7 linked regions of the Homo sapiens genome follow. The protein of the gene in region 1 purifies or fractionates together with the protein of each later gene. This does not show direct contact. Each region holds a gene or a part of one and is shown in the gene's direction. Other genes may lie near its edges.

Evidence for each region.
Region 2: the proteins of IMMP2L (region 1) and WDHD1 purify together in Homo sapiens (affinity purification with mass spectrometry; one large-scale study listed by BioGRID and IntAct). This does not show direct contact.
Region 3: the proteins of IMMP2L (region 1) and LSG1 purify together in Homo sapiens (affinity purification with mass spectrometry; one large-scale study listed by BioGRID and IntAct). This does not show direct contact.
Region 4: the proteins of IMMP2L (region 1) and ACOT2 purify together in Homo sapiens (affinity purification with mass spectrometry; one large-scale study listed by BioGRID and IntAct). This does not show direct contact.
Region 5: the proteins of IMMP2L (region 1) and ANKRD52 purify together in Homo sapiens (affinity purification with mass spectrometry; one large-scale study listed by BioGRID and IntAct). This does not show direct contact.
Region 6: the proteins of IMMP2L (region 1) and ACTR10 purify together in Homo sapiens (affinity purification with mass spectrometry; one large-scale study listed by BioGRID and IntAct). This does not show direct contact.
Region 7: the proteins of IMMP2L (region 1) and DCLK1 purify together in Homo sapiens (affinity purification with mass spectrometry; one large-scale study listed by BioGRID and IntAct). This does not show direct contact.

What each region holds. Positions count from the first base shown.
Region 1 is NC_000007.14:110,666,538-110,670,574, reverse strand, and holds part of IMMP2L (mitochondrial inner membrane protease subunit 2), read left to right. Parts: intron 1-4,037. UniProt on the Homo sapiens protein: Catalyzes the removal of transit peptides required for the targeting of proteins from the mitochondrial matrix, across the inner membrane, into the inter-membrane space. Known to process the nuclear encoded protein DIABLO.
Region 2 is NC_000014.9:54,960,735-54,964,771, reverse strand, and holds part of WDHD1 (WD repeat and HMG-box DNA-binding protein 1), read left to right. Parts: intron 1-1,599; coding exon 1,600-1,820; intron 1,821-1,918; coding exon 1,919-2,034; intron 2,035-2,220; coding exon 2,221-2,274; intron 2,275-4,037. UniProt on the Homo sapiens protein: Core replisome component that acts as a replication initiation factor. Binds directly to the CMG complex and functions as a hub to recruit additional proteins to the replication fork.
Region 3 is NC_000003.12:194,665,579-194,669,615, reverse strand, and holds part of LSG1 (large subunit GTPase 1 homolog), read left to right. Parts: intron 1-3,043; coding exon 3,044-3,164; intron 3,165-3,326; coding exon 3,327-3,413; intron 3,414-3,972; coding exon 3,973-4,037. UniProt on the Homo sapiens protein: Functions as a GTPase. May act by mediating the release of NMD3 from the 60S ribosomal subunit after export into the cytoplasm during the 60S ribosomal subunit maturation.
Region 4 is NC_000014.9:73,572,090-73,576,569, forward strand, and holds the end of ACOT2 (acyl-coenzyme A thioesterase 2, mitochondrial), read left to right. Parts: intron 1-1,298; coding exon 1,299-1,501; intron 1,502-2,196; coding exon of another isoform or gene 2,197-2,280; exon of another isoform or gene 2,281-2,318; intron 2,319-2,818; coding exon 2,819-3,424; 3' UTR 3,425-3,566; downstream 3,567-4,480. UniProt on the Homo sapiens protein: Catalyzes the hydrolysis of acyl-CoAs into free fatty acids and coenzyme A (CoASH), regulating their respective intracellular levels. Displays higher activity toward long chain acyl CoAs (C14-C20).
Region 5 is NC_000012.12:56,247,966-56,252,002, reverse strand, and holds part of ANKRD52 (serine/threonine-protein phosphatase 6 regulatory ankyrin repeat subunit C), read left to right. Parts: intron 1-3,132; coding exon 3,133-3,244; intron 3,245-3,436; coding exon 3,437-3,508; intron 3,509-3,778; coding exon 3,779-3,980; intron 3,981-4,037. UniProt on the Homo sapiens protein: Putative regulatory subunit of protein phosphatase 6 (PP6) that may be involved in the recognition of phosphoprotein substrates.
Region 6 is NC_000014.9:58,209,788-58,213,824, forward strand, and holds part of ACTR10 (actin-related protein 10), read left to right. Parts: intron 1-1,504; coding exon 1,505-1,612; intron 1,613-3,843; coding exon 3,844-3,911; intron 3,912-4,037. UniProt on the Homo sapiens protein: Part of the dynactin complex that activates the molecular motor dynein for ultra-processive transport along microtubules.
Region 7 is NC_000013.11:36,110,775-36,114,811, reverse strand, and holds part of DCLK1 (serine/threonine-protein kinase DCLK1), read left to right. Parts: intron 1-2,596; coding exon 2,597-2,943; intron 2,944-4,037.

The sequences.
Region 1 (4,037 bases):
GGGATTACAGGCAGGCGCCACTGCATCTGGCTAATTTTTGTATTTTTAGTAGAGACAGGGTTTTGCCATGTTGGCCAGGCTGGTCTCGAACTCCTGACCTCAAGTGATCTGTCCACCTCGGCCTCCCAAAGTGCTGGGATTACAGGCTTGAGCCACCACACCCGGCTGCGTAGCGTTTTTTAAATTCATGTGTGTATTAGCTTGCTAGGACTCTCATAACAAAATACCGCAGATTGTGGCTTAAACAACAGAAATTTATTTTCTGACAATTCTGGAACTAGAAGTCCAAGATCAAGGGTTCAGTATATGTTTGGTTTTTTTCTATAGTCCCCCTCCTTGGCTGTTGATGCCACCTTCTTGCTATGTTCTCACATGAACTTCTCTGTGTGCACATGTGCTTCTGGTGTTTCTCTGTGTGTCATAATCTCCTCTTCTCGTAAGGTCACTAATCCGGTTGCCTTCAGGCCTCATTTTAACTTAATCATCCCTTTAAAGTTTCCATATCCAAATACAGTCACATTCTGAGGTATTAGGAGTTAAGACTTCAACATATAAAGTTGAGGGAACACAATTTAGCACATAACAATGTGTACTTACTTATTGATGAGTCTATTTTTTCAGGAAAGAACGTGGGACCTAGCAGTATTGAGAAGCAATTATATTAGGGCAACTATATTCTTATTTGTCAAGGACAGTCCTGATTTATTTTTATTATCCTGACTTAATAAAAATAGCACCCCCTTGGACTGCCAGAAGTGTTTCATTTGGATGATGAATGATATGGTGATCCTGATAGAAAGCTTCTAGAACCAGAGTTCATGCATTTGAGTCTCAGCTCAAAAAATACATTGCTGCACCTACACTACCTCGGCTACGAAATAGAGGCAGTAACAGTACTTACCCCATGGCTTATTTTAAGAATTAAATGAGTCAGTATGTGTAAGTCATTCAGAACACTGCCCTCCATAGAGTAAGCACTGAGTGTAACACTGAGTAAGCAAAGAGCAGGAGGATTGTATATGTCAAGTGTGATGGTGAATTTTATGTGTCAGCTTGGCTGTGCCAGTGTGCTCAGATCTTTGGTCGAGCATTATTCCGGATGTTTCTTTGAGTGTGCTTTTGAATGAGATTTACATTTAAATTGATCGACTTTCAGTAAAGCAGATTACTGTCTGTAATGTGGGTAAGCCTCTTCAATCAGTTGAAGGCCTGAATAGAACAACAGGATGACTTCCCCTGAGTAAGAAGGAACACACCAGCAGATCGTCTTCAGACCTCACCTGCAACATTGACTCTTCCTGGTTCACCAGCAGTCTGCCTTTGGACTCGAACTGCAACGAACTGCAACTTTTTCCTGGGTCTCCAGTCGGCTGACCTCCCTTGTCAGATTTTGGACTTGCCAAGCCTCCATAATCACATGTGCTAATTCCTTAAAGATAAATCTCTCTTTCTCTCTCTCTCTCTCTATATATATATATACATATACACACACACACACACACACACACACACACACACACACGCACACACACACACACACACACACATACTGTTGGTTCAGTTTCTCTGGAGAACCTAACTAATACAGCCAGTATGCAAGTCAAAACTGTACCTGAAGGATAATTTTTAATTTTTACAAAGTTCATATATTTCTGGATTTTTATCTTTCTATATTCACTATACTCTTTGCCTGCCTATAGACATATCAATTTTAAAAAATGAAGATCCATGACAAGACACTATGGAGGATGAACAGACACTCTCTCTCTCTCTATTATTCTCAATATTAAAAAAAAGAAACCCTGAATTTTGCATTCCCATACCATGTTTTGAAGCAATATTGATGTTATCTGATAGAATTCTCATCATTCATCATTGTGAAGATGAATTATTTTTTTCAGGAAGCAAGAGTAGTAGCCTTAATAAATGTTTAAAATAAAAGAATTCTAAGATTGGTTTTGGTAAAATGAGTGTTGATTTAAAAAAAATTGAATCACTATGCCCAAAACTGAGTCCAAAGCTAAGCAAGCGAGCAGATATATTGGCAAGAGTTCAGCCAAGTTAGAAGACTGGCAAATCACCCTTATGAAACAAAGTTAAACATCTTGAAGAGCAAATAAAGGCTTGAGGTACATCTGAGTAGCAGCTATCAAATTTTAAAAAGGGTTATTGTAGAAGAGATGGAGACCAGCTGTTTTCCAACTCTGCTGAGCTCAGATAAGAACAAAACTGGATAAAAACTGCAATATGACAGATCACTTAGGTCTAGGGAAGTATTTCCTGGAAGTTAACATAGATGGAATGGTTTTTTAGGATGTTCTGGAATACATTCAAGGGATTCTTTAAGGTTGATTAGGTTTACCTTTTCCAGACGTGAAACAAAGTGGAAACTACAGATTTAGATTCCCCAACTGAGTAATCAGCAGAATCACTAGGGTTAGGTGGGGTGAGGAGACTTTAAAAAAAAAACACAGACTTCATTTCTATGAAGTAATAGAGGTAGCTTACAGGATATATTGTTGAGAGTAAAAGCAAGGTGCACAAGAGAATATAGCATGTTACCTTTGGTATAAGTCTAAAAGGGAAAAAGGAATATGTATGTATCCTTATTTGCTTTTTTCCTGCTTCAAAAAGGAAACACAGAAACAACAAACCAGAAACTAATAAAATTAGTTACCTATTGCGGATGGGGTGGAAGATGGGAATGGGATTTCTCTTTGTATACTTTTTGTTTCAGTTTCCTATTGCTGATCTAATAAATTCCCATAAATGTATCTCCTTACAACAGCACAAATATACTATTTTACAGTTCTGGATGTCAAAAGTCCAATATGGGTCTCACTGGGCTAAAGTTAAGATGTCAGCAGGGCTGCATTCCTTCTGAAAGTTCTAGAGGATAATTCATCTCCTTCCTTTCTCTGGCTTCGAGAGGCTGCCTGCATTCCTTGGCTCATGGTCCTTTTCTGCACCTTCAAAGCCAGCAGCACTGCATTTTCAAATCTCTTTGAATCTGACCCTTCTGCCTCCTGCTTTCACTGTTTAGGACCCTTGTGATTACATTCAGGCCCATAAAATAATAGAGAATATTCTTGTTATCTTAAGGTCAACTGGTTAGCATCTTAATTCTTCTTTATTCTCTAACATATTCACAGCTTCTGGCAATTAAGATGTGGACATCTTTTGCCAGGACGGTGGTGGGGCGGCATCATTCTGCCTACCACATCTTTAAAAAATAATCTTAACTTTTGAATGATGTAAATTTATATATATTCAAAAATAAAATGGAATCAAAAATGGGTAATCAAAGCAAACTCTAAAATTGAGTATAAATAGAAACAAATAAGCCTACCTCTATATCAAATGGTAACATAACTATACTGGGGAGAAAAAAAAGAATTTATTCCAGGCCGGGCGCAGTGGCTCACGCCTGTAATCCCAGCACTTTGGGAGGCCAAGGCAGATGGATCACTAGGTCAGAAGATCGAGACCATCTTGGCTAACACGGTGAAACCCCTCTCTACTAAAAATACAAAAAATTAGCTGGGCGTGGTGGCTGGTGCCCGTAGTCCCAGCTACTCAGGAGGCTGAGGCAGGAGAATGGCATGAACCTGGGAGGCGGACCTTGCAGTGAGCCAAGATCATGCCACTGCACTCCGGCCTACAAGTACACCCTTAAACTGAGATATATTTTAAGGACTAAAATAATTACACAGACATCTTAATTTGTACTCAGCAGATTTATTGTTGGTAATGGTTGTAGTGTAGTCACCTTGAAACTATTTTGAGTATATTTTAGGAAAGTATAAATGAATAAATGTGTTAATGTTGTGGGGAGCCAGGGTAATCACTGTGGAAGAAGGGAGATAAAATATGGAGTGCGGAAGGTGAGGGAGAACTTTTTGGTATTGGATTTTTTATGTGTATTCCCTGAAATGGCATAGAATATTGACACCCCAGGAGCACTGAGCACACCTAGTACTAAACCTTGGTTTCTAAATAATGGCCAGGCACGGTGGCTCACACCTGTAATCCCAGCA
Region 2 (4,037 bases), on another chromosome or scaffold:
TATCTTGAGCCCAGGAGTTCAAGGGGATTGTTGAGTTCTTCTTTAGCATTCCTGACCCCCGGGCAAATGCCTTTAGTTCAGAATAGTCACTGTGGAAACCAGACTATTCCTTTTTATTTCTTTTTTTTTTTTTGAAACGAAGTCTCGCTCTGTTGCCCAGGCTGGAGTGCAGTGGCGCGATCTCTGCTCACTGCAAGCTCCGCCTCCCAGGTTCACGCCATTCTCCTGCCTCAGCCTCCCGAGTAGCTGGGACTACAGTTGTCTGCCACCACACCAGCTAATTTTTTGTATTTTTAATAGAGACTGTGTTTCACCGTGTTAGCCAGTATGGTCTCGATCTCCTGACCTTGTGATCCACCTGTCTCAGTCTCCCAAAGTGCTAGGATTACAGGTGTGAGCCACTGCGCCCGGCTTCCTTTTTATTTCTAAATGCCCCCTGAGGCAGTGTACCATCCCGATTAAGAAGTACTGATTATAGATAAATGATACTAAAAATCTTGAAAAGGGCATCCAGGTGAATATCTAAAGCTTTTGTGCTGATGGATCAGACATGGAATATCTAAGTAAGAAAATAGTTCTAATACACTATGAATTAGGAGACCCTTAGTAATCTTCAAAATACCAACTTTTCTCAGTTTGTTGTTTTTCTTTTTTGTATTTTTTAGAGAAAGGGTCTCACTCTGTTACCCAGGCTAGAGTACAGTGGCAAGATTGTAACTCACTGCAGCCTCAACCTCCTGGGCTCTAGTGAACCTCCTGTCTCAGGCTCCTGAGTAGATAAGACTGCAGGTGCATGCCACCACGCCCAGCTAATTTATTTTTTGTAGTTATAGGGTCTCACTGTGTTGCCCAGGTTAGTCTCAAACTCCTGGCCTCTAGCAGTCCCTCTGCCTTGGCCTTCCAAAGTGCTAGGATTACAGGTGTGAGCCAGCACACCTGGCCCCCTTGATTTTTTTTTTTTTTTTTTTTTTTGAGACAGAGTCTCGCTTTCTCGCCCAGGCTGGAGTGCAGTGGTGCAATCTTGGCTCACTGCAACCTCCACCTCCCGGGTTCAAGCGATTCTCCTGCCTCAGCTTCCCGAGTAGCTGGGATTACAGGCGCACGCCACCACGCCTGGCTAATTGTGTTTTTAGTAGAGACGGGGTTTTGCCATATTGGCCAGGCTGATCTCGAACTCCTCACCTCATGATCCACCCATCTGGGCCTCCCAAAGCACTGGTATTACAGGCGTGAGCCACCGTGCCCAGCCTCCCCCTTGAATTTTTTAAACAAATTTCTTAATTTTCTTGCAATTAGTAGATTAAAGTGGTATGTAATATTTCATCAAATCTAAGCCACTGTTTATTGCATAGTGCACCATTACTTTATTCATTTAAGCCATGGAGACATAAAAATGCTGCCAAACTGACCCACCATTAATTGTAATTAATTGTAATTCCAATTTCAGAGATGTTAAAACTTGTAAAAATGTGCATCTTAGAATTAGGGAGATAGAGTAGCTAGAAAACTATTGTCTCAGTTTTACTAGTAGTGTCAGTATCTTTAAAAAGTTTTACTTGATGTTATTTGATCTCCCCCCCCCCCCCCTTTTTGGATTAGCTTTCTTGTAAACTGGAGCGAGAATTCCGTTGTGTGGAACTTGCTGATCTAATGACTCAAAATGCTGTGAATTTAGCCATTAAATATGCTTCTCGCTCTCGGAAATTAATACTGGCTCAAAAACTAAGTGAACTGGCTGTAGAGAAGGCAGCCGAATTGACAGCAACCCAGGTGGAAGAGGAAGAAGAAGAAGAAGATTTCAGAAAAAAGCTGAATGCTGGGTAAGAAATAATTTAGTTGTTTGAATTTTCCTTTACTGTCTTGAATGTTAAGTTGGTCTTTGCATAGCTCTTTATTGAATAATATTATTTTCTCTTAGTTACAGCAATACTGCTACAGAGTGGAGCCAACCAAGGTTCAGAAATCAAGTTGAAGAAGATGCTGAGGACAGTGGAGAAGCTGATGATGAAGAAAAACCAGAAATACATAAGCCTGGTGAGATACATTTTCAAGCCCATAAATCATGAGAACTATCATGGATGTGGCTTTTCCCATTTTGCTTAACTGAGGGAAATTGAATACTCATACTTTTTTTCAGACCTCTTTGCTATCTGGTTGTTGTATATTGAGGATGACTATATTTTCCCCATTTACATTATATTGCTTTATTTTAATCTGTAGGACAGAACTCGTTTTCCAAAAGTACAAATTCCTCTGATGTTTCAGCTAAGTCAGGTGAGAAATATTTATAAATTTGTAATATCAAGGAAATTTTGCAAGTCATCTGCAAAGTGACACATCTACGCAAATACACCTTAACTCTTAAGGCCACTTTTGGTGTGTGTGTGTTTATGTTTTTGTTTTTTTAATCTCAGATGTTGTTTGTGAAGCTATGGTCATTTAACAGATGTTTATAAAATGCCTATTGAGTGTCAGGCATTTTACTTAATGGTGGATACAGAAGTCAAACAGACATGTGTGGTTGATCTCTGTTTTAATGCTATTTTAGCCCAGCTGAGAAGACAGATGTTGAAGACAGATCTGGGTATCACTGAGGAAGCATGCAGGATACTGGAGAAACAGTTAAAAGGAATTGAAGGCTGGGCGCAGTGGCTCACGCCTGTAATCCCAGCACTTTGGGAGGCCGGAGTGGGCGGATAACGAGGTCAGGAGTTCTAGACTAGCCTGGCCAACACGGTGAAACCCCATCTCTACTAAAAATACAAAAATTAGCTGAGGGTGGTGGTATGTGCCTGTAATCCCAGCTACTCGGGAGGCTGAAGCAGGAGAATCACTTGAACTCAGGAGGTGGAGGTAGCAGTGAGCCGAGATCGTGCCATTGCACTCCAGCCTGGGCAATGGAGTGAGACTCCATCTCAAAAAAAAAAAAAAGGAGTTGAAAATGGTTGCGTACAGGGAGTGGGCCTGGGGGATAAGAGAAGGTTGAAGTAAGGCACTGCTGGCCCTTTTTTGGTGGGGAGCATAAACCTTATAGTACCATTTGACTTTTTAAACTGTGGACATATGTTACTTTGATTTAAAAAAATTAACTTAAAAAACATGTAGAATATGAAAAGAGCGTATGACACATAGCTGTCATCTAGCCAGTGGTGGAGGATGGGTAGGGACTTCAAGGCAGGCCTCATGGAGTGTTTACAGCAGAGACCTGAAGGATGAATAACAGTCAGCAAGGCAAAGGTGCATGGGAACAGGAGCAGAAGAGAAGCATTTGGGCTTAAGGAACAGTATGTGTGAACTGAAGGCTGCAAAAGGGTGGTGTGAAAAGCTCAGAGAGCAAAGAGAAAGTGGTGCTGAAGGGTTTCGGAGTGATGGGCAGGAGCCAAGTCATGCAGATCTGTGTAGGCCATATTAAGGATTTTGGTCTTTTTTTTATTTTATTTTATTTTTTTTAATAGAGATGGGGTGTCACTCTGTTGTCCAGGCTGGTCTCAAACTCAAGCAATTTCCTCACCTCCACATCCCAAAGTTGTTGGACCTGCAGGTGTGAGCCACCACACCCGGTCAGGATTTTGCTCTTTATTCTAAGGTCACTGAGAGACTGTTGTAGGTTTTAAGCAGAGGTATAGCATGGCACACTGTGCTGAAGAAGAACAGATAATAGACTACTGGCCAGGTGTGATGGCTCATGTCTGTAACCTCAGCATTTTGAGAGGCCAAGGTGGAAGGATCACTTGAGACCAGACGTTTGAGACCAGCCTTGGAAACAATGAAACCCTATCTCTACAAAAAGTAAATAATAAAAATATTAGCCAGGCATGGTAGTACACACCGGTAGTCCCAGGTATTTGGGAGGCTGGGACAGGAGGATATCTTGAGCCCAGGAGTTCGAGGGTGCAGTAGGCTATGGTTGCACCACTGCACTCCAGCCTGGGTGACAGAGCAAGACCCTGTATCAAAAAATAAATAGGCCAGGCGTGGTGGCTCACGCCTGTAATTCCAGCACTTTGGGAGGCCGAGGCAGGTGGAGCACTTGAGGT
Region 3 (4,037 bases), on another chromosome or scaffold:
ATGAGATAAGACCTTTTACACAGACAGGCAGAGGACTCGAGCCCAGATGTGAAGCAGCAGCCAACTTTGTTCAGAAAATGGCTAGAAGTTTGGCTTTGCTGGTGCAGGGGGCGGGATGTGATGAGCACAGGTGCTGAGGAGGTGGGCAAGGGCCAGATTCTGGAGAGAACAAAGGTTTAAGGCTTTACAGGGCTTTAAGCACGTGTACAACATGATTTCAGATTTCATTGTTTAGTGTTTTTTGGGGGGATGTGTGGGTTCCAGCTTTAATGAGCTACACAATTGGCAACTAAAAATTGTATATAGTTATAGTATATAGTGTGACGTTTGGTTATATGTATATATTGTGAAATGATTACTAAAATCAAGTAATTAACGTATCCATCACCTCACATTGTTTTTTTGTGTGTGCGGTGAGAACAAGATATATACTGTCTTAGCAAATTTCATATTATTAACTAATAAATGTGTTATTATTAACTATGGACACCAGGCTGTACATTAGACCTCCAGAACTTATTCATCCTGCCTCAGTAAAACTTTACCGTTTGACCAGTATCCTCCTATTTGCCCCACTCCCTAATCTCTGGTAACCACCATTTTCTCTCTGCTTCTATGAGCTCGGCTTTATTCCACGTATAAGTGAGATCATGTGGTATTTGTCTTTCTGTGCCTGGGTTATTTCTCATAGCAGAGTGGTTCATTCATATTGTCACAAGTGTCAACATTTCCCTCTTTTGTAATGCTGAATAGTATTCCATTGTATACTACATATACCACGTTTTCTTTATCCATTCATACGTTGATGGGCATTGAGGTTGGTTCCATATCTTGGCTCTTGTGAATAGCGCTGCAGGGAACATGGGAGTGCAGGTATGTCTCATGGGTACATGAGATTTCATTTTTTAAAAGATCACTGATGAATTTTAAGGAAGCAAGATGAGTTAGGAGACTGTATCACTTTAGTCTAGCAAAATAGGCCAGAACTGAAATACAGGTAGTAGAAGAAGGGAGAAAATAAGAGGAACAAGAACACTTAAGGAGCTAGAGTAAACCAGACTTGATGGAGAGGGTAGTGTAAGTGAAAAAGAGTGAAGGGACAAAAATAAACTCCTGGGTTTCACAGTGAAATAACCACTTCACCCACTAGGATAGCTAAAATAAAAGAGACTATAACAAATGTTGGTGAGGATGTAGAGAAATTATAACACCATACATCGCTGTGGGAGTATAAAATGGTGTAGCTGTTTTATAAAAAAATTTTGGCAGTTCCTCAAAAGGTAAAACATGGAATTACCATCTGATCCAGCAGTCCCACTCCTGGGTATATGCCCGAAAGAAATGAAAACATGTCTACACAAAAATATGTGCATGTGTATTCATAGCAGCATTATTCGTAATCACCAAAAAGTGGAAACACCAAAAAGTCCTAAAGAGGCAAATCTACAGAAAGTAGATGATTTCCACCAGGTACCTGGGGGTGTACAGTGACTGCTAATGGGTAAAGCTTTCTTTTTGGAGTGATGAAAATATTCTAAAATGGATTGTGGCAATGGCTGCACAACTCTGTGAATATACTGAAAATTATTGAATTGTATGCTTTAGTGGGTGGATTGTATAGTATGTGAATCATATTGTAGTAAAGCTATATATATATATATATATATATATATTTTTTTTTTTTTTTTTTTTGAGACGGAGTCTCTCTCTTGTCGCCCAGGCTGGAGTGCAGTGGTGCGATCTCAGCTCACTGCAACCTCTGCCTCCCAGGTTCAAGCGGTTCTCCTGCCTCAGCCTCCTGAGTAGCTGGGATTACAGGCATGCACCACCACCCCTGGCTAATTTTTGTATTTTTACTAGAGACGGGGGTTTCACCTTGTAGGCCAGGCTGGTCTCGAACTCGTGACCTTGTGATCCGCCCACCTTGCCCTCCCAAAGTGCTGGGATTACAGACGTGAGCCACCGCACCTGGCTGCTATTTTCTTCTTAAAGTCATTAGTAATATCTGCCAGAACAGTTTTAGTGGAGTGAGAGAGCCACAGCTGGAATCTAGAGAAACAGGAAGTGGGAGGTGAGGAAATCAAGGAATGAGCAAGTTGTATTCTCCTGAGATAGCTGACTATGGCAGGGAAAGAGAAGTGTAAGGGTGTGTATGAGAAGGATCAGGGTTAATGGTAGTATGTTCTTAGGTTATGGGGTGAGACAGTAGAGAGGGAAGTTGGAAAGATTTGTTTTGGCAGTATCTGTTCGAAGTTTACAGTTGCAGGCTGGGTGCGGTGGCTCATGCCTGTAACCCCAGCACTTTGGGAGGCCGAGGCGGGCGGATCACCTGAGGTCAGTAGTTCGAGACCAGCCTGGCCAACATGGCAAAACCCCGTCTCTACTAAAAATACAAAAATTAGCCGGGCGTGGTGGTGCGGGCCTGTAGTCCCAGCTACTCAGGAGGCTGAGTTGGGAGAATTGTTTGAGGTTGCAGTGAACCGAGACTGTGCCACTTCACTCCAGCCTGGGTGACAGAGTGAGACTCTGTCTCAAAAAAAAAACAGAAGACAAAGAAAGCAAGTTTACAGTTTCATATCCTATGAGCCAGCACCTCTACTTCTCAGCATCTACCCCAGAGCAGCAGAATTGCCCGGAGAACTCTTTCATACAGATTCCTGGCCCTATCCTCTAGACTCCAGAGCATCTATTCAGTGAGTGGGGGTTAGAGCTGCAGCATTTACATTTTTAACAAGCTACCAGATGATGCTGTATTTTAATAATGAAAACTTGGAAACTGAATGTTCAATAGCAGGGAAAATGTGATATAGACACAGTATGAAATACTGTGTGGCAGTCAAAAAGAATGTAGTAACTCTGGATAGTTATTTGGTATAAAACTTCATTTGGGAATAATAATTTACCCAAGGCTAGAAGAATCTAAATCAAGAAATCTTAAGTTCTCTTAGGCTCTCATTTTTAGTTTTCTCAGTTTATCAGTATGACCAAACACTCTGTATCTATACTGCCTCTTAAGTAATAGTACTTTTCTTTATTTGAACAGAGAAACTTAATATTAAGTTTGTGCCTGCTGAGGCTAGAACTGGACTACTGTCTTTCGAGGAGAGCCAGAGAATTAAGAAGCTCCATGAAGAAAACAAACAGTTCTTGTGTATACCGAGGAGGTGAGCTGAAGAAGAATTTAGAATGCCACAAAACATCCGAGGCTGCTGAGTATTCATTTTTTAAATTGCTTCTTTTTCTCAGCTGCCATTATTAGATCCAAATTACCTATTTTATTTTGGTTACTTATATGAGGAATTTTTTTCCTTCTATGATTGTTTCAGACCAAACTGGAACCAAAATACTACCCCAGAAGAACTCAAACAAGCAGAGAAAGATAACTTTCTAGAATGGAGACGTCAGCTTGTCCGGTGAGTATTATAGACTCTATGAAGACTTACTTTGAAATCCTGAGTTCAGATATTTGGCATGCTTACACAGCCATTTGTGTTTTGAAGTTTTGATTCTTTTAAGAAGGAAATGGTAGCATTCTGCTAACAAGTGCAAATAGATGTATGCACAAACAAGATTGCTAGGTGCAAATGCATCCTTGCACAGAGATCGTGAGTTGGTTACTCTGCTCAGTTCCGGGCCTTTTCCTTTCATTCCCTTCTTTGGCCATTGGGCATCCTGGAGTTGATCGCTGCTCTCCTGCACATTTTTCCAGTAAGAGTGTGGGAAAGAAATGACTTTGTGTGATAGGTAAACTTCCAGGGCATAAATAGCTTCAGGATAAAATTTGAATTTGGTGGAGTATTGTCTAAATAAATAGTATTTTTATGGTGTCTCAGCAGGAAATATATAAAATAATTTGACTCTGGATATTTGTGCCCAGTACTTATTTTTAATGTAATAAATTTGAGCATTTACACTGCTAAAAATTGTCTATTATAATCTGGCAAATATATAAACTTCTCATTCAAAAACTAGGCTAGAAGAGGAACAGAAGCTGATATTGACTCCATTTGAACGAAATTTGGACTTTTGGCGCCAGC
Region 4 (4,480 bases), on another chromosome or scaffold:
GGGCAACAATTTGTCTTAACTTACAAAGTTAAATATGTTATTCTACTTGTACATGTGCACCAGGAGGCATATTCCTTATAAGAGGCCAGATGAGCAGTCTGGATTAATTTAAAAAAAGAGCAAAGTCAACTGGAAACAGTCCAAATGTCCATCAACAATAGAACAGATTAATAAATTGAGGTATATTTCCAGCAGTCAAAGTGATTGAACTACAGCTACAAGAATCAACATCTATCAAGATATACAAAAGAAAAGAAAAAAAAAGAATCAACATGGATGAATCTCCAAACCACTGTTGAGTGAAACAGTCAAACCCTAGGAGAACACATTCAGTATCATTCCATTTAGATACAATTCAAAAACTAGGCAAAATAAAATATTAAGGTACATAATCTAAGTGGTAATACTATGAAGAAAACCAAGAGTGATACACAGAAAGTCCAGGATACTGGAAAGAGAGGAAAGGGCACAGGGGTCTGTGGGACGTTGATGGTTTGCGGGTATCAGCACTGAACTATGTCTTAAAAGTGTTGCCTGTAAGGTGTTTGCATTTTTTTTTTTTTTTTTTTTTTTTTTGAGACAGTGTCTCGCTCTTTCGCCCAGGCTGGAGTAGTGGCACAATCTTGGCTCACTGCAACCTCCACCTCCCGGGTTCAAGCGATTCTCCTCCCTCAGCCTCCCGAGTAGCTGGGATTACAGGTGGCCGCCACCACACCCAGCTAATTTTTGTATTTTTAGTACAGATGGGGTTTCACCATGTTGGCCAGGCTGGTCTCGAACTCCTGACCTCAGGTGATCCACCCGTCTCAGCCTCCCAAAGTGCTGGGGTTACAGGCGTGAGCCACCGGACCCAGCCTGCATTATTACTATTTAATTTTGTGTGAAACACAAAACCTTTAATGTAAATGATAAAAATATCAGTAAGTGGAGTCATTCAGAATGAGTAGCCTTTTGAGTCTGTCTCCGTTGAGTAAGTGCATTCTGTTGAGTGCACTGGAGAGGAATTTGTGCTCTTCTATGTAGCAGTCTTTCTTTTTGTTTCTTGGTGGTGCACCATTAAATGGATTCATTCACCAGTTAAAGGACATTTGGGTTGTTTCCAGTCTTTGGCTACAACGAGTAAAGTCACTATAAACACTTGCCAGAGGTTTCTGGACGAACAGGTTTTCATTTCTCGTGGGTAGATACCTAGGAGTGGGATTGCTGGGTCACATGTGTGGTAAGTATATGTTTAACTTAAACCATCCAACTGTTTCAGGAATAGCTTAGTTTTGCATTTTGTTTTGTTTCTTCCCAAGAACCTGGGCCCTTTCCTGGGATTGTGGACATGTTCGGAACTGGAGGTGGCCTGCTGGAGTATCGGGCTAGTCTGCTGGCTGGGAAGGGTTTTGCTGTGATGGCTCTGGCTTATTATAACTATGAAGACCTCCCCAAGACCATGGAGACGCTCCATCTGGAGTACTTTGAAGAAGCCATGAACTACTTGCTCAGTCATCCCGAGGTTAGTTCTTCTTTCAGATTTATGGGCTATGATGTATCAGGTCTCTTCTTAAATGGTCTGGGTTTTCACAGAAGTTAGCTCATTCATGACAGCCATTCCCTACCCCAACACACACTACCTTTTTTAGTCACTTCTTATAGACAGTTTCTTTTTTTGAGATGGAGTCTCACTCTGTTGCCAGGCTGGAGTCCAGTGGTGCGATCTTGGCTCACTGCAACCTCCACCTCCCAAGTTCAAGTGATTCTTGTGCCCCACCCTCCCGAGTAGTTGGGATTACAGGCACCTGCCACCATGCTTGGCTAATTTTTGTATTTTTAGTGGAGGCGGGGTTTCACAATATTGGTCAGGCTGGTCTTGAACTCCTGACCTCAAATGATCCACCTGCTTTGACCTACCCAAGTGCTGGATTACAGGCATGAGCCACTATGCCCAGCCTAATATTTGTATTTTTTTTTTTTTAAGTAGAGATGGGGTTTCGCCATGTTGGCCAGGCTGGTCTCAAACTCCTGACCTCAAGTGATCTGCCCACCTTGGCCTCCCAGAGTGCTGGAATTACAGGCATGAGCCACCACACCTGGCCTCTTATAGACAGTTTCTATTCAATTCTATATTACTATATTTCCTGCTAGTAAAGAGATTCGTAGTTGTTATTATGCAATTTTAAATTCCAGTATTTTTTTTTTTTTTTTTTTGAGATGGAGTCTTGCTGTGTCACCCAGGCTGGAGTGCAATGGCATGATCTCGGCTCACTGCAAACTCCACCTCCCAGGTTCAATTGATTCTTCTGCCTCAGCCTCCCACGTAGCTGTGACTACAGGCACGTGCCACTACTGCCCGGCTAATTCTTGTATTTTTAGTAGAGATGTTTCACCATGTTGGCCAGACTGATCTCAAACTCCTGACCTCAAATGATCCACCCGCCTCAGCCTCCCAAACTGTTGGGATTACAGGCGTCAGCCACCACTCCCGGCCATGAGATGATGTACTTGTTGATGATGACTCAGTTTAGTTATGACAGTGGGAATGGGTGGCTCAGGTGGGAGACAGAAAAAGATCATGGGAGATACGAGATTAAGGAACTGAGAAACCAGAGAATAATTGATAGATCTTCCACATGGTTATCACCAAGAGTGGTGATGGACAAATTGTGGAAAGGAAGAGATAGAGGGGAGGTAAATTCTCAAAGTTGCAAATCTGGGTAAATGGTAGAACCTAGATTCAGACTCAGGTTCAACTAACTTCCAGGGTGGACACAACTCACCATATTCCACTGTTTGTGGAATCATTCTTCTTCTTTTTCCTTTGTCCCTTTCTCAGGTAAAAGGTCCAGGAGTTGGGCTGCTTGGAATTTCCAAAGGGGGTGAGCTCTGCCTTTCCATGGCCTCTTTCCTGAAGGGCATCACGGCTGCTGTCGTCATCAACGGCTCTGTGGCCAATGTTGGGGGAACCTTACACTACAAGGGCGAGACCCTGCCCCCTGTGGGCGTCAACAGAAATCGCATCAAGGTGACCAAAGATGGCTATGCAGACATTGTGGATGTCCTGAACAGCCCTTTGGAAGGACCTGACCAGAAGAGCTTCATTCCTGTGGAAAGGGCAGAGAGCACCTTCCTGTTCCTGGTAGGTCAGGATGACCACAACTGGAAGAGTGAGTTCTATGCTAATGAGGCCTGTAAACGCTTGCAGGCCCATGGGAGGAGAAAGCCCCAGATCATCTGTTACCCAGAGACAGGGCACTATATTGAGCCTCCTTACTTCCCCCTGTGTCGGGCTTCCCTGCATGCCTTGGTGGGCAGTCCTATTATCTGGGGAGGGGAGCCCAGGGCTCATGCCATGGCTCAGGTGGATGCTTGGAAACAACTCCAGACTTTCTTCCACAAACACTTGGGTGGCCACGAGGGGACAATCCCATCAAAAGTGTAAATTTTATTTGATCATGTGGCCTCTCTGTTGCTAATCTCTCCTGGAAACATCTGCCACATTTAGTGTGTGTATGTGTATTCATTCTTTTGTTTTTAATAACTAAAGTTTTTTCCCCTCATTATTAAAATGAATTTACCAGTAAGAATGAGTTTTTAAGATTTTTATAAACTGTATACTTTATCAGTTTGGGAAGGGAGTAACTGTAGGAAACACAAGAAGTGGAAAAAGTCTCCTCTTCCTATCTCAACACACAACTGATAAGGCTTTAGTTCTGAAAGGAAAAGTGAGTAACATCAATTAACAGTGTCTGGTACGTAAATGGAGTTCAATAATTATTTGCTGAATGAGTATAAGTGAGCCAGGCGTGGTGGCTCACACCTGTAATGCCAGCACTTTGGGAGGCTGAGGTGGGCGGATCACTTGAGGTCAGGAGTTTGAGACCAGTCTGGCCAACGTGATGAAACCCCATCTCTCCTAAAAATACAAAAAATTAGCCAGGCGTGGTGGCAGGCACCTGTAGTCACAGCTACTTGGGAGGCTGAGGCAGGAGAATTGCTTGAACCTGGGAGGCGGAGGTTGCAGTGAGAAGAGGTTGCAGTGAGAAAAGATTGTGCTACTACCCTCCAGCCTGGGCAACAGCAAGACTCTGCCTCAAAAATTAATTAATTAATTAATTAAATGATTACCTACTGTGGAAGAAAAGCACATAATATAAAAAGTGTATCAGATTTGAGTTCCTCCTTTAAGAATGGAAGTTAACATCTTGCCTATAAACTGATTACTAGTTAGATATAAAACTACTAAAAATTTTCAAAACCAATACATATTTAGTTCTTTGATATCTTCTCCTTGGATTAATAAGGATTCTCCTAGTGCAAATAAATTTTACATTCCTGTTTATACATATGGACTTTTAGGATTTGTTTCAAAAGCTGATAAAACATTATTGAGATGAATTACATAAGTGATTTTAACAATGACAAATGTGAAGTTAAATAACAATTTAGGCTTGGCGTTGGTGACTCACACTTGTAATGCCAGCACTTTGGGAGACCA
Region 5 (4,037 bases), on another chromosome or scaffold:
GAGGGCCCCTGGGATGTGCTTTCCCCAACCCATGCAAGCTCTGGCCCTACTGTCCTCCTACCTAATCTGAACCTCTACCCTATACTGCTGCTGTCCTGCCGGTCAGCCAGCAGTGTGTCTTGAGCCCTCTGGGTGTAGTCCATAGTGGGCAAAGACAAAAGTATGAGATTGAAGCTCAGGAGCTTCAGGGGGAAAAAAAAACCCAAAAGTATGAGACATAGTTCCTTCCCTAAAGGAATGGATTTTTTTTTTTTTTTTTTTTTTGGAGACAGAGTCTCACTCTGTTGCCCAGGCTGGAATGCAGTGGTGTGATCTCAGCTCACCGCGCCCGGCTGGTCTTCTTGAGAGGATTAGAAAAGCTAAATGTACAAAATAATTTGTTTATTCCACAAGCATTAATTAAATATTTACTTACTAGGTTCCAAGTACTGTGCTAGATACTAAGGATAAAAGATGAGGCTGGGCGTAGTGGCTCAAGCTTGTAATCCTAGCACTTAGGGAGGCTGAGGTAGGCAGATCACCTGAGGTTAGGAGTTCAAGACCAGCTTGACCAACATGGTGAAACCCCGTCTCTACTAAAAATACAAAAAATTAACCAGGTGTGGTGGCACACGCCTATAATCCCAGCTACTCAGGAGGCCGAGGCAGGAGAATTGCTTGAACCAGGGAGGTGGAGGTTGTAGTGAGCCGAGATCACGCCACTGCACTCCAGCCTGGGCAACCGAACAAGACTCTGTCTCAAAAAAATTAAAATTAAAAATAGGCCGGGTGTGGTGGTTCACGCCTATAATCCCAGCACTTTGGGAGGCCGAGGCAGGCAGATCATCTGAGGTCAGGAGTTCGAGACCAGCCTGGCCAACGTGGTGAAACCCCGTCTCTACTAAAAATATAAAAATTAGCTGGTCATGTTGGCAGGCACCTGTAATCCCAGCTACTCGGGTGGCTAAGGCAGGAGAATCACTTGAACCAGGGAGGTGGAGGTTGCAGTGAGTCAAGATCACACTAATCCACTCCAACCTGGGCGACAGAGTGAGACTCTGTCTCCAAAAAAACAAATAAATAAATAAAATTAAATAAAAATTTAAAAAGGATGAATTGTCCCAAATTTCTGTCTTTCGAAAGCTAATAATCTATTGGGAAAGATAAATAAAAGGACACTTATGCATACTAATGTAAGATGTTAATGACGGGAAACTAGGTATAGGTTATGTGAGAACTCCCTGTACTATCTTCACAATTTTTCTTTTTCTTTCTTTTTTTTTTTTTTTAATTAATTTATTTTGTAGGTCAGGGATCTCTCTGTGTTGCCCACACTGGTCTCGAACTCCTGGGCTCAAGCAATCCTCCTGCCTCAGACTCCCAAAGTGCTGGGATTACAGATATGAGCCACCACACCTAGCCCACAATTTTTCTATAAATCTAATAATATTCTAAAACAAAAAGTTTATTTTTTGCTGGGCACGGTGGCACATGCATATATTCCCAGTTATTCAGGAGGCAGGTGCAGGTAAGGCAAGAGGATCATGCAAACCCAGGAGTTTGAGGCTGTAGTGCACTATGATCATGCCTATGAATAGCCACTGCACCCCAGCCTGGGCAGCCTAGTGAGACCCCGTCTCTAAAAAAAAAAAAAACCCACAAAAATCAGGTAGGCACAGTGACTCATGCCTGTAATTCCAGCACTGAGGTGGGAGGATTGCTTGAGCCCAGGAGTATGAGACCAGCCTGGCTAACACATAATGAGAACTCATCTCTATTTTATTTAATTAAATAAATAAATAAATTAATTAATTTATTTATTTATTTGAGATGGAGTCTTGCTCTGTCACCCAGGCTCTAGTGCAGTTGCGCGATCTCAGCTCACTGCAACCTCTACCTCCGGGGTTCAAGCGATTCTCCTGCCTCTTCCTCCTGAGTAGCTGGGATTACAGGTGCCTATCACCACGCCCAGCTAATTGTTTTTTTGAAGACCGAGTCTCACTCTGTTGCCCAGGCTGGAGTGCAGTGGCATGAACTTGGCTCACTGCAACCTCCACCTCCTGGGTTCAAGCAATTCTGCCTCAGCCTCCTGAGTAGCTGGGACTACAGGAGCACGCTGCCACGCCTGGCTAATTTTTTGTATTTTAGTACAGACGGGGTTTCACCATGTTGCCCAGGCTGGTCTTGAACTCCCGAGCTCAGGCGATCCACCTGCCTTGGCCTCCCAAAGTGCTAGGATTGCAGGCGTGAGCCACCACGCCCAGCCTAATTTTTGTATTTTTAGTAGAAACAGGGTTTCGCCATGTTGGCGAGGCTGGCCACGAACTCCTGACCGCGGGTGATCTGCCCACCTCAGCCTCCTAAAGTGCTGGAATTAAAGATGTGAGCAACCGAGCCAGGCCCCTGTCTCCATTTAAAATAAGTAAATTAAATAATTTTTTTTTAAGATTTATTTTTTTAAAAAGGACACTAAAATCCAAGAGGCTCAGCTATTACCTTCAGCAAGTTACTTCTCTATGCCTCAATTTCATCACCCACAGTAAGGATAAAAATAGTATCTACTTCATGGGATCTTTATGAGGATTAAATTATTTAATATACATGAAGTACTTAGAACTGTGCTTGACAGTAAGTGCTACTTTATTATTATTACTACTACTACAACTACTACTAAGGTATGAGAAGACTGCCAAGGGAGCACAGAGGAAGAGGCATCTTCCCCAGGGAAGGCTGGGAAAGGCCTCACAGAGGAGAGAAGCTGGGACTGAGTTTGAGATGAACAGGACTTATTCGGGTGGGCTGGGAGGAGAAAGCATCCTAGGGCAGGGGTTGGCGTGCCTGGAGGTGGGGAAAGCATGTTGGTCAGCAGAAGGCTGATAACTGAACATCATGCTCTAGGTTCTCTAGGAGAGCATTCAGAGGATAAAGGAGGGCATTGAAGCCAGAGGGGTTCAGGGCAGACCTTGAGAAGGTAAAGTGGGTCTGGAGCTGCCATTGAAGAATGGGTAGGATTTAGAGAACCTACCTAGAGCTGAGGACGGGTGGCGGCCAGGTAGGCCTGGAGGGCCTTGGTCCTCTCCTCTGGCCCTCCCAGAACTGTGCCCTCCTGGGCTGGGCCTGTCCCTGCCTCACAGTCTACCCCCGGCTCCCCAGCTGTCTGGAGTTCTTACTGGATAACGGTGCAGACCCCTCCCTGCGGGACAGGCAGGGCTACACAGCTGTGCACTATGCAGCCGCCTATGGCAACAGACAGAACCTCGAACTGGTATGTGTTGGGGCCCGGCCTGCAGGAGGGGAGGCAGGGGCAGGGCACAGGGTTTGTGGATTCCAAAACTAAGGGTTCAATCAAATGTGGTCTTTGGATCCAGAGGCTTAGTGGGGATTACTGCGAGTCGGGGACTGGGGTACTATCTTGGGAGTTCCAGAGTCTCAGCACCTACTTTCCTGTCCTTTGCAGCTCTTAGAAATGTCCTTTAACTGCCTGGAGGATGTGGAGAGCACCATTCCAGTCAGCCCTTTGCACTTAGCTGTGAGTCCCACGTCTTTTTTCTGTTGCCTTCCTTGTCCTACCTGTTCCCAGGCCCTAACAAAGGTGCCAGCACTTGTGAAGTTATCCTTCCTTCTGCCTTTTTGTGGGAGAGGGGATAAGCACAGTGCAGGGTAGGAAGCCTTAAGGGGCCCAAGGAGCTTGTCAAGGACTAAGACCTTGAGCTTCCCAGGGACCCCAAGAGCAGAGAAGGGGAAGGGAGGAGCAGGGAAGGTCCCGAGCTGTGTGCACTGGTTGCCTGCACCTTGCCAGGCCTACAACGGTCACTGTGAAGCCTTGAAGACGCTGGCGGAGACGCTGGTGAATCTGGACGTAAGGGACCACAAGGGCCGGACCGCACTCTTCCTGGCCACGGAGCGCGGCTCTACTGAGTGTGTGGAGGTGCTTACAGCCCACGGCGCCTCTGCCCTCATCAAGGAGCGCAAGCGCAAGTGGACACCCCTGCACGCTGCTGGTTAGTGCCCACTTTAGGCTGCTGCCCTACCCTTGCCATGCCAGATCCCTCCTGGAT
Region 6 (4,037 bases), on another chromosome or scaffold:
TTTATCAGCAAGGGAAAATGTAAGATTATATGTATTAAGTGAATAAGAAATTAAGCACATATAAATGTATTTTCATACATTTACTGAATTCAAAACATACCTAATACCAAAAATCACAATGTCTTTATGAGGTAAAGGCACTTAATATTTCTAAGTTATATTTTTGTAAAGCAGGTACAGGGAATCAGGTTGCATAGCCTCCAGTACCTACTGATGTCATGAGTCCAGGAATTTCATTTGTAGTAAGGAGAACATAAAGCAAAACAAGAAGTCGTGTCAGCTGTTATCTGAATAAAGTAGAATATTCTCTGTATTTATAATTAGAGTTTGTGTTAATATCTTCTATATGACTAGAATACCTACTTTATTTAGATAAGGGGAATACAGCCATTATTTTGTCTGCCATTCGATTATGATGGACTGTCATATTTTGATTGAATATCTAGTATTTGAGATGGCACCAGGTTTGGCAAATTCTTACTGAAAAAAATGTTGCACAGAGCCAACTATTTGTATATTTTGTTCTTTGGTTTAATTTTAACTGCCAGTTACAGTTCAATTAGCCGGACGTGGTGGCATGCACCTGTAGTCCCAGCTACTCAGGAGACTAAGGTGGGAGGATTGCTTGAGCCCAGGAGGTCGAGGCTGCAGTGAGCTGTGATTGCACCACTGCAATCCAGCCTGGGCAATGGAGCAAGACTTTGTCTCTAAGTTAAAAATAAAAATTTAAATAAAAAGAAACAGTAAAAATATATAGTTCATATTACAAACTTTGCAAATAAAAACAATGAAGAATTTTTTTTCTCTATTTTCATCTTAATGGTAAAGGCATCTATTTTTTAAATTTAACATCTTCCTCTATATTTATGTTTCTTGACCTCTTCTTTTTTTCTTTTTTTTTTTTTGAGACAGAGTCTTGCTTTATTGCCCAGGCTGGAGTGCAATGGCGCGATCTCGGCTCACTGCAACCTCCGCCTCCTGGGTTCAAGCAATTCTCCTGCCTCAGTCTCCCTTGTAGCTGAGATTACAGGCAGATGCCACAACACCCAGCTAATTTTTGTATTTTTAGTAGAGACAAGGTTTCACCATGTTGGTTAGGCTGGTTTCGAACTCCTGACCTCGGGTGATCCGCCCGCCTCAGCCTCCCAAAGTGCTGGGATTACAGGCGTGAGCCTCTGTGCCCAGCCTCTAGACCTCTTCTTTTATCCCTTTCAATTTTCCCTTCCAAAAGAGAACAAGAATAAAGAAAAATGCTTCATAATTGTCATTTTGGAATGAAACAGTTGAGCTATTTTTATTACAGTGTATTTTGGTTATTGAGTGAATTTATATAAATCAACAAACTAGTTCTTAATTACTCTCATAAAATGGTTGAGTAGGTATCACCATATAAATTAATATAATGTTCCTGTGAATTTTTTCAAATATATTTGGATATAAGGCAAATACCTTCAAATAATGACACTCATTCCGGTTTTGTTGTATTGATTTTGTTATTTTCTAGGTTCCATCTGTCTTGCTTGCTCCAAGTCATCTAATGGCTCTTCTGACGCTTGGAATTAATTCTGCCATGGTCCTAGATTGTGGATATAGGGAAAGCCTGGTGTTACCCATATCTTTTTTGTCAGCCAGCCACCTTTGCAGTTTTTACTCTACTTTAACTAAAATAATTAGGCTAATTATAAATGATTTGTATTGTACTGAACTATTTTGGGTTACTATGTACAAATATGAATTACAATGTGGAAAAAGTTCACAGGATTATAAGACTTAAGTTTACTTTTTGTAGAAGTTATTATTGTTTGGTCCCAGGATATACTCCAGGAGTATACCTCATGAATATTATGTTCAGTTTTTAAAAGAAAAATCAGGATGTGTCAAGTTGACTAGAATAGTCAAGTTTTAAGAAAAAAATCATACAAAGAGTAATTGGAGAAACTGAAATGAGTATGTTCGATCCAGAAAGATTTCAAAACTTAATGGCAACATGAAATCAGCCTTCAAACAGCTGAAGAGCTCACTGGCCTCTGTAGTCGCAGCTACTCAGGAGGCTGAGACAGGAGAGTGGCGTGAACCCGGGAGGCGGAGCTTGCAGTGAGCCGAGATCATGCCACTGCACTCCAGCCTGGGCGACAGAGCGAGACTCTGTCTCAAAAAAAAAAAAAGAATACGTTTTTTCTTTTCTTTTTTTTTATTTTTTAAATCTCCAGAGGCTTTCGTGAAGGCAGTATGCCTTAATGTTTACAAGCTTGGGTTTTAGAATCAAATACACAATAAGTGCAATGCAAATCTCAGCTAAGCTTTTTACTACTTGGTCAGGTAGCTTAATCTCTTCGGGCCTCAGTTTCTTTATCTATAAATTGGGGATTATAATATTTCCATCTCATAGAAGAGTTGTGTTAGTTGAGTGAGGTAATATATATAAAGTGTTCAGCATAGGATTTGGCACATAGTAATTTTCTCAGTACGTGCTGTGGTTTTTATATCATTGACCATAGGCAAGAACTTACTAATAATTCAAGCTGTCCCAAAATTGAATTACTGACCGTATAAACTAGTACATTTCTTTTCATTATAAATATTTAAGCAGAGTATAGATGAGCATCTCTTAGAATTGTCCTAGTGGACATTGCTTTATTGAAAAGGATGTTGACATGCATGAATGTAAGACTTGCAATTTTGAGATCTACATGTATATTTATTAGAAAAAATATTCATGGAAGGAAATTAAGCATCATTAACTCCTAAGGAATTTAATCAAGCAGTAGTGTTTTTTAGTATAAAGTACTTTGTGTTTAATTCTTAAAACAACCATGCAACATGAGTATTATTATTCTCCTTATATAAATGAGAATATTGACAGTTGGGATGGGTAGTTGACTCCTCTTCTTATAAACATGTAGCCAGGATATAAACCCATGTTTGTTTCCAAAGCTGATGCTCTTACCAGTATACTTAGCAAACCCACAGTAAATATTGTTTACTTCCCTCTCAGCTCCGTCCTGTAGAAATATAATGTGGACCATGTATGCAATTTAGAGTGTTCTAGGCTGGGTGCCGTGGCTCACACATGTAATCCTAGCACCTTGGGAGGCTGAGGTGGGCAGATCACCTGAGGCCAAGAGTTCGAGACCAGCCTGCCCAACTTGTCAAAACCCCATCTCTACGAAAAATACAAAAATTAGCCGGGTGTGGTGGCACATGCCTGTAATCCCAGCTGCTTGGGAGGCTGAGGCACAAGAATCACTTGAACCTGGGAGGTGGAGGTTGCACTGAGCCGAGATCGCACCACTGCACTCCAGCCTGGGCTACAGAGCAAGACCCTGTCTCAGAAAAAAGTTAATAGAGTTTTCTAAGAGCCACATTTTAAAAGGCATGAGAAAAGATGAAATTAATAGTATATTTTATTTAACCCAATGTATTCAAAATATTCCAATATTCCATCAATACAAAAATTATAATGAGGTATTTTAGTGAGGTTTTTTGGTATTAAAACCTTCTAAATTTGGTGTGTAGCTTAGTCTTAGAGCACATCTCAATTCAGACTAGCCATATTTCATGTATTAAGTAGCTGCACAGGCCTAGTGGCTACTTTATCAGATGCCCCAGCTGTATCTAATGAATTGTGTGTGGTCATGTGCTTATGTGTATTTTTATTCTGTTTTCTTTGATGAAGAACATGAAAAAAAACTTACTCTTTGATTTTTCTGTAACTATGTTAAAAATAAGAAATAAAAATTTGTCACTAAAGCATATTTAGAACAGTACTGCAGAAGGTGAGGAAAATATCAAGGAAACCACATTTTATCTCCTAAAATAGTAGTATCCTTGACTACTCTATAGATATATGAAGGAATCCCAGTTCTAAATTGTTGGGGAGCACTACCCCTAGGAGGAAAAGCTCTTCACAAGTAAGTTTCTTGGAATTTAACATATTCATTTCACCTGTGCCACAAAAACAGTTGCTAATCTGTTTGTTGATCAGTGATCAATAGAGGGCTTGTGATACGGACAGTGAATTTTATTCATTCCGCCCT
Region 7 (4,037 bases), on another chromosome or scaffold:
TTTATAATAATCGATGATAATTAGCCCATGAATTGAAAAGCTATTTTTTACAAAATCAGAAAATACAACCAACTTTAATTTAACTGCATTAAGGCGGGAACCACATCTCTTGTGGCAGAGAGAAGTTCAGTGTTATGATTACTGTAAAAATAGTTAATACATAGATTTAAAAAGATTTAATGGAAATTTCTTTTCATGATAAAATGGAAATGTATTAGCATAAGGAAATCAATGGAAATTTATTAGCATAAGGAAATCCATCTGGGCCTTTCCTGAATTCCTGAATAGTGTCACAGACTCTAAATGACTGTGGTGTGTGATCTTGGATTTGGTGGCAGCTCCTTCTCCTTCCTTTAGCTGTTGCTTTCCTGTTAGCACAGTATCATCTGTTACTGGAGTCTCACATCCTTCTCTAAGATTCTCATTCCAGTCTTTAAATCTGATTATCCAGCAGAGGAGCCTCACATTTACAGCTCAGATTAAACACATATTTCTTCTGATCATTGTTGCTTGAACCAAACCAGCAACGCCTTCTCAGTGTAACTGGAGAACTTTCTTATGCTTTTAAACATTTTCAGGGTGCTTTATCTAAGAAGATATTTTTAAAAAGTGTTTATTTTCTCTTTTAACAAACTCACTCCATGTTGCTATGTTCTTTAAAACTGCTCCCTCTTCTAATTTAATATATTTTTAAAGTTTTTGTTGAAATGTAAACTGCTCTCTGTATCTTTGTTTTGCTTTTAGTTATTAGCTTAGTATAGAAACTTATAAATAATCAGACAATTGCATATCTTCAGTTAGCACAGAATTCTGACAGAGGCTAGCTTTGCCAGCTCAGTTACATGCTGTGTGTCTCACTGGGGAGTGTTAGGGCATTCTCACATTGACATGGACCCAACGTGGTGTCCACTGGTAACTGTTCAATATAAGACCTGCTTACCGATTTCTAGTAATTTTGTTTTTGAATTTTTCTTTCAGGCTTACTGCACGATTAGGGTATGTAGCCTCAGGTCATTTTCACTCACATAGCAGGTTTGTATTTGAGATCACTTTGATCTCTATCTTCTAATTTGATCTTCAGAAAAACCTAATGAGGTTTTGTTTTATAGATAAATAAACTACCACCCAGAAATCTGAGGGACTTGTCCAAAGTCACATGCTTGGAGAGGCCAGGTCTTGAGCCCGAATTTCCAGTTCTCTCTTCCCACTATCATGTGCAGGTCATCACTCCATGAAAACTCCCAAAACACTGCTGTTTCTATAGTACCCAAATATGCCTTTCTCAGGATTTAAGAAAATATCAAAAATACATATAAGTTTTTGATATTTACTTAAATCCTGAGGAAGGCATAGCTGAGACAAGTCATGATCTGCCAGGTGAATAGAAATGGGGTTGGTTAAACTTGCACTATTCATACAACTTCTAGTGAGGCATAATGTGTATGTATACACATTAGAGAATATTTTAAGAACATCTGCAAAACAAGTGTTCAGTAACATGTATAACTGCTCTTTTTAACTTTTGAAGGCCTGCTTCAGTTATTTTTATGTGACTACTTATTCTTTGGCCTTGGATGCTTGCACTGTGAATTTAAAAATAATACAAGGACTTAGATAAAAGTCAATGGGCTGTGTTAGATTAGGCCTCGGTCATTTTACCTACAATTATGAAGGTCTTTCAGCATTTTTACCTATTCCTAGTTACAAAAACTTATTAACACAGAAAAAAAGCCATTACAAAATCTTTAATTTCAAAAGGCTTTGACCTAACTTTATGAAATATGTATTTAGAATTCGTCATTTTACAATTTGTTGTCTCTTGGTTCATGTTTTTCTTTTTTGTGTGTGTGATCTACATCTACTTAATAGTCTGATTATTTTCATTAAAAGATTTCCTGCTAAGGAGTCACTTTTAATAAACATTTACTTATATTTATTTTAGAGCCCATTTTTGAAGCTGTAGTTTGTATGTTGAACACTTCTAAAACCTCTTACTTATGAACAAGTATGAATTGACCTTATAGTATGTGTGGATCACTGTGATTGGCACTATATAGATGAGAGAAAGGAAGGGTGATTATTTGCTTGCTTTTGGAACTTTACTGGGCTTTACAAAATCTTTAGCATCAACTCTCATCAAATTCGTAAATTATATGACTATTTTAAGATGCTGTATTCTGATTCATTCTTAGTGTTTAAATTATCTCAGGTAGCAAATGGAGGTACTTCCAATTTTGAAATTTTCTGCAGATTTAAGTATCTCTAATTCCCAAAGAATATTTTCTATTTTAAATTCACTTTCACACTTCTCTAAGGTCTTTTCAAGTAGATCAGCATTTCTATCACCGACCTTAAGATGAGGAAATGGAGGAATAATGTTTTGTTTTGTTTTTCCAGGATGTGGATCTGTTGCTGACAGTGCCAGATTAGCAATCAGAAATCTTTCTTTTTCCCTAATTATTAATCACACTTCCATTGTTTGAAAAGTCAGGGCTAGCTCTTGCCCCTAAGCAGAAAAGGCAAAAGAGAGGATAAGTAGGAAAAAAGAAATGGGCATATTTTAGTATAAATTTAAATATATTTCTCTCTTCCTTAGGAGAGAGTTATGTATGTGGCTCCATAGAGCCCTTCAAGAAACTGGAGTACACCAAGAATGTGAACCCCAACTGGTCGGTGAACGTCAAGACCACCTCGGCTTCTCGGGCAGTGTCTTCACTGGCCACTGCCAAAGGAAGCCCTTCAGAGGTGCGAGAGAATAAGGATTTCATTCGGCCCAAGCTGGTCACCATCATCAGAAGTGGCGTGAAGCCACGGAAAGCTGTCAGGATTCTGCTGAACAAGAAAACGGCTCATTCCTTTGAGCAGGTCCTCACCGATATCACCGATGCCATCAAGCTGGACTCGGGAGTGGTGAAACGCCTGTACACGTTGGATGGGAAACAGGTAAGAGACATATTGTGATGTGACTTTGACTTTAAGGCAAGAACCAGGGAGTCGGAGGGTGTACGTGGCTAAAGCATACATTTTGCTCAAGTTGTTAAAGGGCCTGGGTCACTTGATCAACAAATATGTACTTGCTGGCCCTAGAACAGTCAGAAGTTTGAGTTGAGCAGGATTATTCATAGGAATAAAGTAAGAAAAAAATGCATATCTTTGAAGATTAAATAATTACTCAGTGATTTCTACTTGTTCATTTATTATTTGCTTAACATAATGATTCTTTTCTGTCATCTGTTTTCAGTTTTCTCATAGATCTTATAGCCTGAAGAATGAATGACTGAGGTGTGAAAGTAAACTCTGACCAGTAGGGAAAATTCTAACTTATTTCTTTGACCTAAATATTTTATGATTTTAAGTCTTTGTAGTGTTCGCTAGTGAGATTTACTTACATTTTATAGATTTTAAAATATGTATCTAAGAAATGACATATTTCCATCTGGATAGCTTTAAAGGCATATTTCTAGAATAGTACGCATCTTGTATTTTTCAGTGTTAAAATGAAAGGGAGGTTTTTCAGCTACAGAATGAACATCAGTTGACTTGGATGGGTGGTCATTTTAATGTGAGTTGGTCAGATGAACCCAAAGGAAGCATCACCTTTTATTGTCTTGGGTGGACTATTTTTGTACAGGTTTGACAGAACCTTGATGGTGAGTTGAATTAAAAAACATTGATTAGGGCCGGGCACGGTGGCTCACGCCTGTAATCCCAGCACTTTGGGAGGCCGAGGCAGGCGGATCACGAGGTCAGGAGATCGAGACCATCCTGGCTAACAGGGTGAAACCCCGTCTCTACTCAAAATAAAAAAAAAAAATTACCTGGGTGTGGTGGTGGGCGCCTGTAGTCCCAGCTACTCAGGGGGCTGAGGCAGGAGAATGGCGTGAACCCGGGAGGCGGAGCTTGCAGTGAGCCGAGATCGCACCACTGCACTCCAGCCTGGGTGACAGAACAAGATTCCGTCTCAAAAAAAAAAAAAAAAAAAAATTGATTATATGTACAGCATGATTTGCTAGTCATTCAGAGTTTACCAGATTATA